2 separate regions of the Homo sapiens genome follow, and region 1 is linked to region 2. The links come from fine-mapping of genetic effects on gene expression. Tissue or cell type: spleen. Region 2 holds a variant in brackets; the other region holds the start of a gene. All regions are shown on one strand. Distances are from middle to middle.

Region 1 (8,262 bases), 130 kb before region 2:
CTCTTAAACTAACTAAAGACCATATTAAAACAAGCCTTACATGAGGAATTTTTTTAAGTTGGTAATAATACAAATGAGAAGACAATTCAACACAGTGATTACCCGAGGTGGAAATCTAGATTTGAACAAAAGCTAGAGGTTAGTACTTCCATTCCTATGATAACTTTTGCAGTAGACACGGGCTGACACTCAATTTAATTCCTAGTTCTAATGTATTTTAATTTGGCACATTTTGATTTAATTCAATTTTAGTATATTTGAATTCGCTCTTTCATCTTGTTTTGTGTATGACCTCAATTTGACTTCAAGTTTCACTTCTCTGTAGAGGAGTCTTGAATCCATGCAAGTAAGCTGCATCTTGTGTCTTCAGAATTCAAGCTATATGCCCAGTGGTATATACTTCCTCTGAAGAATGGCAACAGCACACCACTCCACATACGCCACACCCTTACTGGCATGGCTAAAGGACCACATCATTTCACCCACAGGAAGTGCTTGGGAACTGACCAATATTTGGATTCAGTAAGATTAGATGCTCAAATAAGCTTAATTCTGAGGGGAAAAATATCTTATAGCTATATTAGGTTGTTAGAGCTGCCATAACAAAATATCACTCACTGGGTGGCTTAAACAATAGAAATTTACTTTCTCACAGTTCTGGAAGCTAGAAATCCAAGATCAAGGTGTTGGCAGGTTTGGTTTATTCTAAAGCCTCTTTGCTTGGCTTGCAAATGGCCACCTTTTTGCTGTGTTTCCTCTGTGTGCGTGTGACCCTTGTGCTTCTCTGTAAATCTAAATTTCCCCTTGTGAGGACGCCAGCTAGATTAGATTAGGGCCCACCCCAATCACCTCATTTAACTTAATCTCCAAATACAGTCACATTCTGAGGTACTAGGGATTAGTGCTTCAACATACGAATTTGGGGGAGACATAATTCAGTCTAAAACAACAACTAACTAGTTTCATGTATTTCTGCCCTAAGCACTAGTTTAGGCTTTGTTCTGTTCATCTTAGAGCCGATAAAATCTCTCTCAGCCATCCTTCCCCCAAGTAACCCATAGTGAGAAGTGATTGGGGGATTACATTCCATGCAGCCCTCCAAACATTATGTGGGACCCCCTTGGGTACTTAATAAAGACATTCACAGTGACCCATCTGTTGTACAATTAGATGTTTGGGAGTCACCAAAGTTGTTCAGCAACAAGTCCTACTGATTGCCTCTGAAACCAGAGAGAGGCTTTCACAATTCTTTTTTTCCTACAGCATACCAGTTAAATTAGAAATATGCCAGGACATATCTGAGGAATCCTTTCGGTCTCTCCTGGAGTAAGGTAGTATCAATGGTGAGGAAACTATTGAACAAAGTGCTCAACGACCCTTTAGTATTTCTGACAAGCAATAATACAAGAGTTAAGACAGGAGAAGCCTGGAGCTAATTCTTGCAGCTTCCAGTGAAATGTTGGGGAGTTTTTTCTTCTTAAATACTGTTGCATATGATGTGTTAAACAAAAAATTTTAAAGAAAATAAGCCAAATTAGTGGCATTCAGGTAGATCTTCTCAGTCCTTCATGCTGCACATCCACCAAAAGTGAGTTTTACAACTAGTCTCATTGTAACACTTACGGTCAGACTGCAAAATGCACGTGATTTTAACAAGCATAAAATGTCGTTTTCATGAGACTGACTAGACTCTCCTCTTAAGAGTACCTGTAATAATCAGACAACTGCATACACCAGTCTCACAGGAGTTTTAATCTTCAAATGGTCATTTTATCTTACATATACAGAGTGTCTTACAGCATACAGCAATTTCCACTTTATCTGCTAGTGTTAGGACCAGCACTAATAAGAATGAAGAGTATGTTGTTTATCAGCCACAAAAATCTGTGTCTATCACCATGGTTTGACTCTTAATACTCTAATGTCACAAACAACTGGCTTGAAGAAGTGTTTTTTGGTAGGTCCTATATCTAACTGTTCAATCCACTGACAAAAAAAGGGAACTCTTCCCCACTCTAACCGGTTTTCCTAAATGTACGAGGGGTTGACATTAGCTGTCTCACATTAACTTTCAAAAGACCATCAGATGAAAACGTTTCATCAAAAGCCACCTACTTAAGTATGAACAATGACCAAAGAATGACAAATCAAAATTCTGGGCACTATACTAAGAGAAAACTCTTCCAGAACACATACTTAAGAATTAATTTTCTCTCTGAATTTGGCCAAGTTTGGTGGTTTCATTCACAACATTTAAGGAAAAAAATGATGGTTTATGGCTAGCAGATAATAAAACAAACCTTTATACCACTTACTAAATAGAAACGGTTTAGGCTCACAAATATGTTAAAGCTTTCTCTTTCCCCGCAATGGTAGCCAAGCAGCATAAACGAATCAACATTTCCTCAGTTCAGACCTCAACTGGTTACAGGCAAGCAAGGGCTCCTCAGAATTTGCTTTACTAACGGTTTAGGTCAGAAATTTTTTTGAAGATCAAATGTCTTGCTATGTCTTTGTGTTCTTTTTCCCATCTCTATTACGTTTGTTGCCCTGTTGGTCTCCTAACACTTCCATTTTCTCCTTTTATGTTCCTGCTATGCTCTCCAAATGGCAGTAACCTGAAGTATAACTGATCACACCTCTTGTGATTTTTTTTTATTCTAGGACTTCCCAGATCTGGACTCCGAAGAAGACGCCCAGGTGCAAGCCCAAAGGTTACCTATTTAAATTTTCCAAGCACAGTGTGTAGAAAATCATTCCTCGCCCTTCATTTTGTGTTGCTTAACGGCGCTGTCGTGCCTAAACGTAGATACTGGCCAAGAGCTAGATTTCCAAAATGGCTTTGCTCCTTTCGAGCTGACATCGGTCTATAACATGCAATTTATTTCCCCTGCAGCCAATCTTTCTCTCTACTCCAAATACTACCCGATACGCAGAAAGCTGAACCTAACCCAGTGTAAACACCGACTCTCATCTGCTAAATTCAGCAAGGCCGGCAAAGCTGTTGCACTGATGTAAAAAGAGCGTTAAATCAAAAAACCAAAAAAACAAAAAAAAAAACAAAAAAACGCCAAAACACCCACACGAAGCCAACTGGAGGGGCGGGCGTCGGCCGGATCGCGCCCTCCCGCCGCAGCCACGCCTCCCCGCCGCGGCCACGCCCCCTCCGCCCCTCTCCGCGCCGCCGCCGGCGGCCTCCGCGCGGGCCTCCCAGCCCTTATTCCACTCACTTTGTTCTCCGCCTTTGTCCTAATCCACACCAGCAGGTGGAGCCGCAGTTAAAGTTTCCGAGTCCATTCCGGGAGCGGGAGCCCATCTTGCTGGCTGCCGAGGCCCTCGCTGGAGGAGGAGGGTCAGAACTCGGGTGCAGCCAATCGAGGGCAACGCTGCTACTTATCAGAGCAGAATGGGCTGTAGTTTAGTGAAATAGGAAAGCTGCAAAACACTGTGGAGTGCTCCCGTGTAAATAAAAAGAGGAAAAAAGTTTCTCAAGTCGCCGCTGCACGACGTCTGGCCGGCGCTGGAGCGGGGGTCTGCGCTCTCCCGAGCGGCCGCGCGCTGGACTTTATTGTGCCGCAACCAGCCCCAGTTCCCATTGTTTGTGTTTTTTTCAAAATATGGCAAAGGTTCAGGTGAACAATGTAGTGGTGCTGGATAACCCTTCTCCTTTCTACAACCCGTTCCAGTTCGAGATCACCTTCGAGTGCATCGAGGACCTGTCTGAAGGTGAGTGCGGCGCCCGTGCGCCCGGGCTGTCAGTTGCGGGCTGCAGACGTTGAAAGTTTCCCGGGCCGGGCCTCGCGCTGGGCGGCTGTGTTCGGCGCCTGGCGGCCGCGGGCTGCTCTGCGGAGGGAAACTTGAAGTTGATGGACGACGGCCGCCGAGGCGCGCGCGGCTTTCCGCCGCAGCCCAGGCGCCTGCCGGGCTCAACTTGCGAGGAACTTGTTTGAGCGGAGGAGCGGAGGTAGCCATGTTGTCAGCTTTGTCTGCGGGCGGGCAGCTCGGAGACCCGCACTCGCTCCCGCTGCGCCGCCTGAGGTCGCGCCGGGCTGGCTCCGCGCCGCCAACAGCCTCCGCGACCCTCCGGGCCCGAGCACGGAGGCTGGGAAGGGAGAGGCTGTGCGTGTGGTCGCGCCGGCGAGTTCGGAGCGGAGCCATCTTACCCCGAGTCGAGAATTGGGCCAGCGACCCCGGCGCACGGCGCCTCCTCTTGCCCCGCCGCCCGCCTGCCCCCGGCGAAAGGCAGGCAGGCACTCTCGAGAGCTCACGGTGGAGTCGCCGCACTCTCCGGGCTGGCCATGCCTGGCCGCTTCGGGGAGGAGAGCGAGGCTGTCCTCGCGCTGATTTCTGGCTTCCTCGACCAACCAGCGGGGGAGGCGGGCGCAGGCTCGGCCCCTCCGCGCCGCGGGCTGGGCGCCGGCGCTCCCCGGGGGCCGTGGGTCCTGTTCGGCCGGTCCTCCTCGGCCGGCGCCCGGGATGCGCCGGGATGCTGGCGCGCAGGCTCCCCAACCAACGTGGACTCCTTTCCCCTAATGACGAAAAGCTAATTTCAGGAAGAGAAATAGAGCTGAGGTAGGAAGTTACATTTAACCTAAAAGCAGAAATAAGATACTTAAATAATTTCCAGGACTTAATCTCTGCCTTATAAATAGTCTGAAGGAAGACTTTCTTCAAGACCGTGTTGAAATCTAAAATAACTCCACATCCAAATACAGAACACACCCTAAACATAAAACACAAACGTAGGCTAGGAAATTAAGGTCAACTCCTCATGTCAGTCCAAGAATTCTTGGTATTTTTTCTACATATATTTTAAGGTCTTAAAAATACGTATTTTTAATATCTTTAGTAATAAATATTTAGAAAGCTAAAACGACAATTATCTTTGCTTTAATTATCTTTTACTAAAGTAATTCAGTGCTTCATTTGCCAGTTTTGAAGGGGAAATAGTTTAACTTCATCGATGAGGGACATACTTTGAACTAGAAGTATATGTAAAAAATGCATTGAAGATGATTTAGGTAATCGTGGCATGTAAAACTTTTCATTTTAAAAACTAGTTTTTAATCTCTAAAATGTATATATCATATGTAAGGTTAATTTTAATTATAAAACAATATATATTCATTGTAATAAACTTTTAGAAAGTTGTACAGGCATATATAAAGTTAACAGTTCTCTGTACTCAGTGCCTTGCCCTATCTCCTTTCGGTAATCACAATTATTACTTTAACATGTGCCCCCGTTTTTTTTTTTTTTTTAAACCTATATAGAGCATAAATGCACATACATATATAGGGCAAATTTTGAAAGATGATTCATTTATTAAAATAATTTCAAATAGGCCATTGATAACACTAAGGGGTATTTTTCTTATTACTCTGAAGTCATTTGATTACTCTCCTATGATACTACTATTAATATAAGCATTGCAGCTACCAGGCCCATTTTTCACACCCAACAGTAATTTTTTTTTTATTGCCAACTGCATATAAAAATAGACAAAAGAAAAACCATTGATCGGTCCATTCCAACTTATACCACACTGTTTTTCAGATATACCACCAGAAGTTCTTCAAATTACAGGTATTTCTCAAGTGTTGCCTTCCATTTTAGGAGTCAGCTCTGAACAAAGAAGATAGATGACTCAGGATGTCGTTACAGGGCTTTTACATTGCATAGATGAAACCAGCCATTCATAAAGCCAAAACGTTCCATTTTTAACTGGGATCCATTCAGAACCCAGCTGAATCACATCAGGGATTTACAGTACTGGTGTCAAAAACATACTTATTTCCAATGGTATATTTCACTTCCTAGGCACCATTACTGAGCATTTATTTAGTATTTTAAAAAATATTTTAAGCTGAGTCATACTGAAGCTGCAAAGGAATCTTTCAAAAAGGTGCCATGCCTGTATACTCCACCTAGAGGCTATGTGGATTAAGGAAATTTTTACTTAGCAAAGGCTTCTAATAGGTTCCATACTTTTATATTACAGTTCTTTTAAAAATTCTGTTCTTAAAATTAAACTATAGAATTTTTTTTTTTTTAAATGAGACAGTGTTGCTCTGGCACTCAGGCTGGATGGAGTACAGTGGTGCAAACACAGCTGCTCCCTGCAGCCTCAACCTGGGCTTAAGCAATCCTCCCACCTTAGCCTCCTGAATAGCTGGGACCATAGTCGATGTGCCACCACATTGGGCTAATTTTTTAATTTTTTGTAGAGACGGAGTTTTGCCATGTTGCCCAAGCTGGTCTCGAACCCCTGGGCTCAAGCAGTCCTCCCACCCCTGCCTCCCATAGTGTTGTGATTATAGTGAGCCCACTGCACCCAGCCCAAACTATAGAATATTTTGAAAAGAATTTTCTTAATAAGTTATTTTGCCTCAAGTCTCAAAGCAGAGTTTGGCCACCGTTTTTCATACTTTCATCAGTAGCCCCAAACGTTCACTTTCCTTTAAGAGCTGCCCTGTAGCTTTGCTTCAGAAAAAGCCTTGAGGAATATTTGGTCTTAAGATAATTTGGTTCTTTCTAATATAGGGCTTATATCAAGGGTTAAGACAGCCTGAGACCCTGGCTGGATGTGCTTGATGGTCACCAAGACTGTACAAGTTTTGATTGACCATCCTGCCATTCTTAAATTTATATATATATATATCTTAATTACAGCTACTGTCAATTGAATACTTATAATATACCAGAATTGAGCATGGTGCTTCATACTTTCCAACTTCAGCTTGTTCTAATTCCAAAGCCTACATACTTTCCACTAGACCACAGGTCTTCCCAAGTAGTGTAATTAGCTAAAAATTCTCTTGATGACTTCCCTCATTCACTCACTCTTTCACCACAAATGTAAATACTTTCAGGCTGGGTAAATCATTTAATCATGATTACTGTGATTAAATAAAAGTTAACTTTAAAATAAATGAACAAATTTCTTCACCTGAGAACTTATGTAAAACATCTGACCTTACCCTTCCTCCCTCAAATACAGGGGGCAGAGGAATTAAATGAAAGCTGGGTTAAAAAAAAAAACAACAAAAAAACTGATGCCAATGTATAAAAGGGTATTGAGCATGTAAAACTCAGCAACTGTAGCAAGCATCCCATAAACATAAAAATCAATGTACAAGTGTTCCCTGAGTTGCAGCCTGTTCTTGTTAAGGCTAGATTCTCTCTCCATCTCCTCTGCTCTCACTTCCCCTGCAAATAAATTCCCTTATTCCACTGCTAATTTCAGAGCTAGAAAGAATTTATCTTCCCAGTTAGGTTTTCAGAAGAAGCCCGGGGTTTGTAGTTACAGAGGCATAGCTTGGATTCTGATTCTTTGATGTACAAATTATGAATTTGTGTAGATTACTTAACCTCTCAGAGTCTCAAGTTATTTGCATAATGGGGATAATTTGATCTACATGATGAAGCTGTTGAGGTTTAAACAATAGGTATGAAGTAGAACTAATGCCCAGTATATAGTAGGTATTTTCTAAAATAGGTTTATAAATTATGGCTATGTTCCTATGCCAGTCCACAAATGCGAATTTATACCACTTAGGATCAAGGGCATTATATGTAGTGATACAATTATATATGAAATTAAAATTCATGAAAACCTTTATGTAATAATTTTTTTTTTTTTTTTTTGGAGACAATCTCGTTCCATTGCCCAGGCTGGAGTGCAGTGGCGCGATCTCGGCTCACTGCAACCTCCGCCTCCAGGGTTCAGGCGATTCTTGTGCCTCAGCCTCCCGAGTAGCTGGGACCACAGGCATGTGCCACCCCTAATTTTTGTACTTTTAGTAGAGATGGGGTTTCACCATGTTTGCCAGGCTGGTCTCGAACTCCTGACCTCAAGCCATCCAGCCACCTTAGCCTCCCACAATGCTGGGATTACAGGCGTGAGCCACTGCGCCCAGCCACTCTATGTGATAATTCTTAGTCTTATCCTCACTTGGCTAGTTTAGTACCTTTCACATCACTTTCTTAAAACAGTTTCTTCACTTGGCTTTTGGGTCACCTACCTCATTTGCCACTTGTTTTGTAACTTAATTTGTCCTCTTATCTTTGGAGGGCTCAAATCTCACTCCCTAGAGCAAGCCCATGTATTTTTATGGCTTTACATATCATTGACAGGTTCCAAATTTTTATCCTGCCTATTCAGTATCTCTGCTTAGAAGCAGACATCTCAAATATGTCTAAAATGAACTCCTGATTGCTCCCCTACCCCACATCACCTCCCTGCAAAAGTGGCTCCTGCTG
Region 2 (8,262 bases):
TCAAACCTCTGGCCACAAGTGATCTGCCCACTTTGGCCTCCCAAAGTGCTGAGATTATAGGTGTAAGCCACCATGCCCAGCCCGTTTTTCTTTTAGTGACTACTTTATTGGTATTTTACCTGCTATTGGTATTTTTCCTCACAAAGGAAAACTCTCAAGTTTTCTATAAAAATATATTCCTAAAAATAAAAAATATTTGTGTATCTTATAAGTAATTAGTAACATATTGAGTCCTTTAACTTATTTACAGTCTAAATAGTTTTAAAATGTTAGAAGAAAAAATAAATGCTACCTTAAATTAACATTTAAGTGTTGGGGCCGAGCGTGGTGGCTCATGCCTGTAATCCCAGCACTTTGGGAGGCTGAGGCAGGGAGACTGCCTGAGCTCAGGAGTTCGAGACCAGCCTGGGCAACACGGTGAAACTCCATCTCTACTAAAAATACAAAAAAATTAGCCAAGCATGGTGGCGGGCACCTGTAGTCCCAGCTACTCAGGAAGCTGAGGCAGGAGAATTGCTTGAACCCAGGAGGCAGAGGTTGCAATGAGCCGAGATTGAGCCACTGCACTCCCGTCTGGGCGACAGAGCAAGACTCTGTCTCCAAAAAAATAAATAAATAAAGTGTTGATTTTAGCTAAGCATTACATCAAAAACTGTGGTCACACATACTAGCTTTGAGGACAAGATCTGAAGCTTGCTGTTGTAAACGTTCTCTGGCAGCTGCTAGCTCACTTTCCACTTCTTTGTGCTTGCTTAATAGGGCCATTTCTCCCTCCTTGGCATCATCAAGCTGTTTTTGAAGAACCTAAGAAAGATTAAATAGCCATTGTTAAAATGCAGGAATAATACTAAGCTAAATAATTCATTTAAATTATAAGGGTCAGCTTTCTCTTATTCAGAAGTCATACTAAACTATATACCAATTTTTAAATCTGTAAGTATTAGTGATTTATAACTTGATGTTTTCATAAACATGACCCAATCAGGAAAGGCTATTCCACACTTTCTAATCCATTCTAATGTTGCACAGATATTAAAAACATGGCTATGAAATTTTCTAAGCCAACAAAACAAAACTTGTGGACTTCCGGCATTTTTTTCCCCCAGACTTGTGCAATACCCCTATTAAATTCAGGTTTAGAAAGCAAGCAATTTCTTGATCAAATTCTAAATATCAGCTAGCAGGCAAACCATTATTAGTGAAAGGAAAAGAAAAAAATGTATTTAAACTTTAAGCCCAATATTAAAATCCTTTTGTAAATAATTAGCAATATTGTCCGCCCCCCCCCCCAGGAACAGCGTATTACCTCGCTAAGCTCACTCACCCAGGCTGGTTTCTAACACCTGGCCTGAAGCGATCCTCCTGCCTGGGCCCCCCAAAGTGCTGGGATTACAGGTGTGTACCACTGTGCCTAGCCAATAATTAGACAAGGTTTTAAGCTTGTCTTTTTGGGCCCCTAATATCTGAAAGTCTGAAATAACAACTACAGGGTAATACAAATTATCCTGTCATTGATTTTTCTCACAAAGGAAAAGCAGGAAAAGTTAAAAAAAAAAAAAAAAAAAAGTCTAAGTGGTGTGAAGCCACTGATTCTAAGTGGGCCAGACTGCTCTCCAGCCTACAAAACAAATATTTTTAAAAGAAAAAAAATCCATGTGTTGAATATAATATTCTTTACTTACCTGAACATTGTTCTCTGCTATGGCAAGTGCCGTCTGAAGCTTTTGGCATTTGTCAAGAAGACTTCCAGCTTCATCCTGTACCATCTGTAACTCTGTCTTTAATTTTCCTATAGTTTTTCGTAAAATTGCTTCTTGTCCCTGAAATTCTTTTCTAAGATCAGCTTCCTTTTCTTTGCTGGCCTGTAGGCTTTCTGCTGTAAAAAGCTGTGACCTTTTCAAAGTATCAAGCTCACGTTCATAAAAGGACTGAGCTTTATTCAACTTGCCTTCATAATCCTCAATTAGTTTCTTCCGTTCAAGTCTTAGCTCCTCAAGCATTTTGTTTAGGGACTCCACCTCCATTCTGTGTAGTTCCTCTGCCTTTTCCTGGCCTTTATTTACTGAGGCACTGTGATCCTGCTGTGACTTCAATAGCTCTTGTATCTCCCGTCTGTGAGCAGCTTGCAAGTCTTCCAATGCCAATCGTTTGTCTTTTTCAAACTGTACTTGAAGTTGTCCAAAGCTCCGTAATTTTTCTTCAAATTTCCTTCTAATCTCTTCGACTTCTCTAGACATGGTCACTATGCGTTGGACATGCTGGGCTTCTGCACAAAGTTGCATGTCCTCAACTCTGTGCTTATAAGCTTCAAATTCTGTCAAAGCCTGCTGCTTCATTTTTATGTGATCTTCTAATGATGATTCTAAAACTTGAATCTTTCTTCTAAGGTCTAGCTCCTCTGTTACTTTGCTTTTATACTGCAATATTTTTTCTCTTGTTTCAGCAAGAATTTGTTGAATTTCTTCTTCATGAGCATCTTTGAGGGCTTGAATTGCAGATTCATGCTCATCATTTTTAGTGTTTAAAGCATATATTACCTGCATGGTTTTGAATAAGAAGGGAGAAGGATTGTGAATCCATATTATTTTCTAACTTGAAGTCAATTCTTTCATTTGGATTGATATTTTTCTATGCACATAATATTGGCTACAGCTAATGTTAAATATGGAATCTTGATGCAATTGTTTTTTTACTCATAGATTGATTTGCTTAGCAAATTTCTATCTTAGCACAGTCTTAAGATTTGTATTTAAAGACTTTTTAGTTATAATTTTAAAACATTCAAATTTAAGACTATTTTTTACTACAAATGAAACAGCAAAGAGGAAATGGACAAAGGAGGCAATTGGCCTAAGAGAAAGGAGTTCTCATATGTCCCAATCTAGCTTACCGGGGACTGTGAAGGGGTGTTCAGGAGAAAAAGTCTCATAGTAAGACTCTGCCCTATATTGGTGTCCTAGAGATACGAGAGGCTTCACATGAAGAGAAGCCCTAGGCCCTAAGTCTTCCCAAAAGCCTTTTATCTTTGTAATGGCCTGTTTAAATATTTCAAATTTTAAACTTTCCTTTCCCAATTCCCCTATAGTTTGCTTCTAAAGCTGATCCTCTTCTCTCTTCAAGTTTCTAGTGATCTCTTTATAAAATCCAATTTGTACTTTTTCTCTTCATATTTCAAATGCTGTAGTTTTACTCTTTGGCTAATTTTCTCTCTGCCTCCAAGCAACCCAATTCCTTAAGCCAGAGTTTTGAGTACAGGTCTTTATTTTCATTTTAGTTCCTAGGTTTTAATGATTTCACTGAGATGTCCCAACCTTAATTTCAAATGACAACAAATTCCCTGCACAGTAACACTCTCCTTCCTTCCCTCTGTTCCTCGGATGCCATCCATCATGCCACTGTGGTCACACGGTGAAATTTTCATGACTGTTATTTAAGGCTTTGAGATGAGCCCACTTTCTTCCCCCGGAAGCGAAAAGAAGTAAACACTGTACAATCAAAAAATCCAGCAGCTAAAAATCAGTGTCTGGAGATTTGCTCATTTTAATGTGATATTACTCTGGCTTTAGAAATGAATTCCAGCATCAGATACCAGAAACTGCAGTTATGATGGAAAACTGCTGCCATTTTTTGTAGAGAAATTATTCATGCAGCCTGAGGTAACTGTGGCAGACTGGCTGGCTCTCCAAATACCACAGTAACTCCAGATCCCACTCGCTAAAGATAGGCTGTCACTGTCTGGGACAGCAGTTGTGCTTGCAAAAGAAACAAGAAGGCTGCCTCAACACAGGGGCATCACTTTCTCCACATAGGGCTTTGTCTTCCAGATCCAGTGGCCCTGTCCATATACTCGCTTAGTCTGCCATCATACCAAAGGTAAAAAGATTGAGAGATGGCAGGAACCCATCTGTCTTGCCATGCTATCCCTTTTTGCAAAGTCTACAGGAAAAAATGTGAACAGAAGTACTTATTCACATTCTGTTTTTAAAAAACCCTAATTTCAAATTCCAAATTATGTTCCCAATAAGGTAACACAGATCCCAAGCAGGACTCCTTCATTTACACATTTACTCATAAAGGTAGCTTATAAGCCAAGAAAGCTGACTGACTTCCTATTCCCATCCCCTTGGGTCATATC[C/T]GCCCACCAAGTCAAATGGCCATAAAAGACTGAAAGGATCTGTGATATAACAAGTGTACCAAAAATATAATTCTAAGCCCCCAACCGATTGAACGGACCCTCCTCTTAGCCAAGTGGACCCCAAAGAAACCTGAAAAAATAGTTTAGGCCATGACTGAAAGGGAGGGGTCAGACATGCCTCATTATGGATTGGACATGCTGGGCTTTTCTGCACTCTATACTTCGGGATTTAGACACAACTGACCGACGTTAACATTAAAACAGAGATCATAAGACTGACAAAACAGACTCTTCATAGCAATAAAATACCAAATTCCAAACAACATCATGTGATACTATACCAAGAGTCAGGTTGGAGTTTGGTATTTTATTGCAAGCCCTGAAGAAAATCAAAGTATTTTACCCTAAAATTTTTTTGTTTGACATTCCATATTCTGAAATGCCCCTGTAAAGCTGCCTCCTGTAAAGTAAATTTGCATTCTGTAGAGAATCTCCTTCCCATACTCGGTCTTCTCCAGAGAGCATGACACCTTTTAAGGTCTGATAAGAGATATTTACCATCTATTCTCTCTGAAGCCTGCTACCTGGAGGCCTCATCTACATGACAAGAACCTTGGCGTCCACAACCCCCTTATCTAACTAAACTCAAGCATTTCTTTATGCTGAATTCAACTCTTTAGTCAGGGCTTACCTCTTTCAACCAATTGCCAATCAGGAAATCTCTGAATCCACCTATGACCTAAAACCTCCCTCACGCCCACCTAGAGATGTCCCACTTTCCAGGCTGAACATTACACATACTGATTTATGTCTTTGCCTGTAACTTCTGTCTCCCTACAATGTATAAACCAAGTTGTAACCAAACCACCTTGCGCATATGTTCTCAAGATTCCCTGAGGCTGTGTCACAGACCATGGTCTTTAAGTTTGGCAAAATAAACCTCTAAATTGACTGAGACCTGTCTCACATACTTTTTGGTTTACATAAGAAATATATATTTGGTCTCTTCCCCCAGTTCCTGACATAGAGCTCCTAAGACTTTTGTAATTTCCTGTGCGATAGGATCATTGGACACAGTGAAATATAGCAGGGACCCCACCTCTCCTTTTAGGGACCTGCAAACCCCCAAACATGGAAATAAAGGAAAACCCCAAAGTTCCTTTAAGAAACATTCCAGGCATCTAGCTAGCCCCGGAGGTAATTCAGTAACTTGTTAAACGAAAAGGTAGCAGAACAATAGCCAAGGAAGTTAAAGCTCCAGAGATGTTTGCTTTTCCTACAGAAACTAAAGATAACATCCTAACATACATCCTTGAGTTGTCTTTTAGAGGCTTGAAACCCCACTGAATGGATCTGCTGGCATACAGACTCCAGATAAGGGGGAAATGAAGACTAAATTTTAGCTATTACCCTTTGTTTTATTAGTAAGTTTCTTCCTGAGGAACTTAGAGAAAGTCATTCCCTCTAGCAAGTCAGCATTTTTCTACTGAACTTAAATGTTTTAAACAAAGCTTCCCTTCCTTAATCAACTGCAAATCCGAAGAGTTCTGAATCTACCTACCATCTGTGAGTGCCCCCCACTTCAAATGTCCTGCCCTTTTAAGCTTAAGCCAATGTGTAACCTCCTTGTATTGATTTATGATTTTGCCTGTAGCTTCTGCTTTCTTGAAATTTACCCCTGCCTTTAAAAATCCTTGCCTGCAAGCCTAAAAATCCTTGCCTGCAAGCCATCAGGGAGGCCAGATTTGAGCATTTAGCTGGCTGGTCCCCCCCTGCTTAGCACTCTGCAATAGGCAACTTTCTGTCACTGCAAAAACCTTGATGTGTGTTTTCACTGTGCCAGTTGAGCAGACTCCAGTTCTGTTCTTTAACAGCAGAGCTCCTAAATCCCTTGGAATCTCTTGCGGGATAGGAGCATCTTTTGTTCTAATGACATGACTCCTAGTGGGCTCTTGGGAAGGCCTCAGGATTGGGGCTGGCTGCCAGAGGAACCCATCATGTGACTATACAGTTGGAACTTCCAGCCCCATACAGGGTCCTCTAGGGAGGAGACAAGGTCGGAGAGTTGAGTTGATCACCAACAACCAATGATTTAATCAACCATGCCTACACAGCGGAGCCTTCATAAAAACACAAAAGTCAAGTTTCCAGATTTCTGAACACGTGGAGGTGCTGGGAGGGTGGCATGCCTGGAAAATGCAAAGAAACTCCACATTCCTTCCCACAGACCCTGCCCTATGCATCTCTTCCCTCTAACTAACTTCTTCTGTACCCTATAAATGGGGGTAAACATGTTTTTCTGAGTTCTGAGAGCCATTCTAGCAAATTAATCCAACCCAAGGGAGGGTAGTGTGAACCCTCTACTTACTTTTTTGCCAGAAGAACTTGCAGTTGGCATCTGAATGAGGGCAGTCTTGTGGGATTGAGCCTTTAACCTGTGGAATCTGATGCTATCTTCAGGCAGATAGTGTCAGAAATGAACTGAATTATAGTATACTCATTTGGTGTCCACTAGAGAACTGGTTGTTGGGAGAGAAAATCCACACACATTTTGGTGACCAGAGGTGAGGTGTTATGTGTTCTATCCAGTGTAAGGGTAGGAAAACCTGTTTTTTCCTATCTCATATAGGGACACTAAGGAAAAACAAGCCAACCAGCCAGAGAGAAGCCCATTTGCTAGAGTGCCTAGAGCAACACTGGTATAGGCCACAGGCTTCAGGCCTTTCCAAGGCTGGTCAGTCCTAGCCACAAGGAAGGAAAAGAGAATTCAACGAGGTAAAATCCAAAGAGAGAACTAAGTCACATCATTAGCATTCTGTGCATTCTGTTCCAGGAAATGATCTGGGAAAGAACCAGTCCCTGGTGGAATTCATATTTTGGGGATGAAATGAGGGAAGGAGGAAATATGTGAGTTTCCCCTTGTCGACAATTTATTGAAATAATCTTCTCTTTTTTCTAATATTAAATTTCCCTCGAAGCTTTGATGAATCAGTTCCAGTCCTGCCTCCTTTAATGAGTCTTCCATGACCACCCAAATCCATAAGAGTCTATCTTTTCTTTATATCTAGAACCTCCATTGCCTTACCTCACTCACTCCTGATTGTCAGTAAATATATAATTAAATTTGGAGGAGTCTTGATAAGGTTGGAAAGATGTATGAGGATATTAGAGACCCTAAAAAGAAGCTGAAGATATAAAAGCACGGTAGCAATCAAAAAGGTGAAATTTAAAAAGAAAAATGTACAAATTAAAGCATTAAGTTAGAATAGGATTTAAGTAAACAAAACATGGCAAATAATTTAAAAAATATTATAGTGAGGAGCTTTTATTTCACTTGACATTCTAATGCAGGAGTTAGCAAACTACAACCTGTAGGCCAAATATGGCTGCTGCTTGTCTTTGTATTAATAAATAAAATATTATTGGAGCACAGTTATGTCCACTTGTTTATGTATTGCCTATAGCTGCTTTCCCACTATGACAGCAAAGTTGAGTAGTTGTGGAAAACACCTTATTACAAACTCCTGTTCTAATCTATACATAGAAAAGCCATCTTATCAGCCAAAATTGGCAGCCACAAATAAAAAATAATAAAAGATCTAAATTTGCAATAGCTTGGTTTACTCCCTATTAAATAGTACAGGGTTCTTTCCACTACCACTCATACACTGAGAAAACCAATTAAGAGATTCTGGAAGCATATTTTATAAAAGAATATATATTCATGCTGACCATATATTGGTATTTCCCAAGGAAAGCCATGTTAAATAAGTTTCTAAAAACTTAAAAAGAAATAACAAAATGAAGCCAAACATAATAACAAATTAATACTGCTTTCATTAGTGATCACTTGAAATACACCACTACTAACTTATTTTTAAGTAAGAATGCTACATATGAATTTTCAAGTTGAGCTTAACTGGATATAGTATCCTCTAATTGTTCATTTTTCTATGTAATTATAAAGGTAACTATTTATTAGTGTCCTTCTCTGAACACTATTTTTCAGATCAAGGTAATATAAAAATTCCCTATGTTCTTTGAACATACAGAAGATATAACAAAGGTTTGACACTAGATAAAATCACTTAATTTCTTCAAGCTTTGAGTTTCTCAAATATTAAATA

What was found. PIP is the estimated chance that this variant, and not a neighbour inherited with it, causes the effect.
Region 1: ASF1A starts here. The variant in region 2 is fine-mapped to the expression of ASF1A in spleen (GTEx, PIP 0.97).

The regions. Positions count from the first base shown.
Region 1 is chr6:118,890,797-118,899,058 of GRCh38, forward strand. ASF1A (anti-silencing function 1A histone chaperone) reads left to right here and starts at 3,356. Exons shown (of 4, transcript NM_014034.3): 1 at 3,356-3,726. The coding sequence starts at 3,618. All of the region lies in intron 8 of MCM9 (minichromosome maintenance 9 homologous recombination repair factor), which reads right to left. RefSeq lists silencers at 3,091-3,230, 4,021-4,550 and an enhancer at 3,551-3,640.
Region 2 is chr6:119,022,277-119,030,538 of GRCh38, forward strand. It overlaps FAM184A (family with sequence similarity 184 member A), which reads right to left. Exons shown (of 18, transcript NM_024581.6): 2 at 1,683-2,537; 3 at 669-804. All of the region lies in intron 1 of LOC124901389 (a long non-coding RNA gene), which reads left to right. Among named protein-coding and RNA genes, the nearest start is that of MIR548B, 43 kb to the right of the region's middle. The variant C/T (reference allele first, on the strand shown) is at 4,136.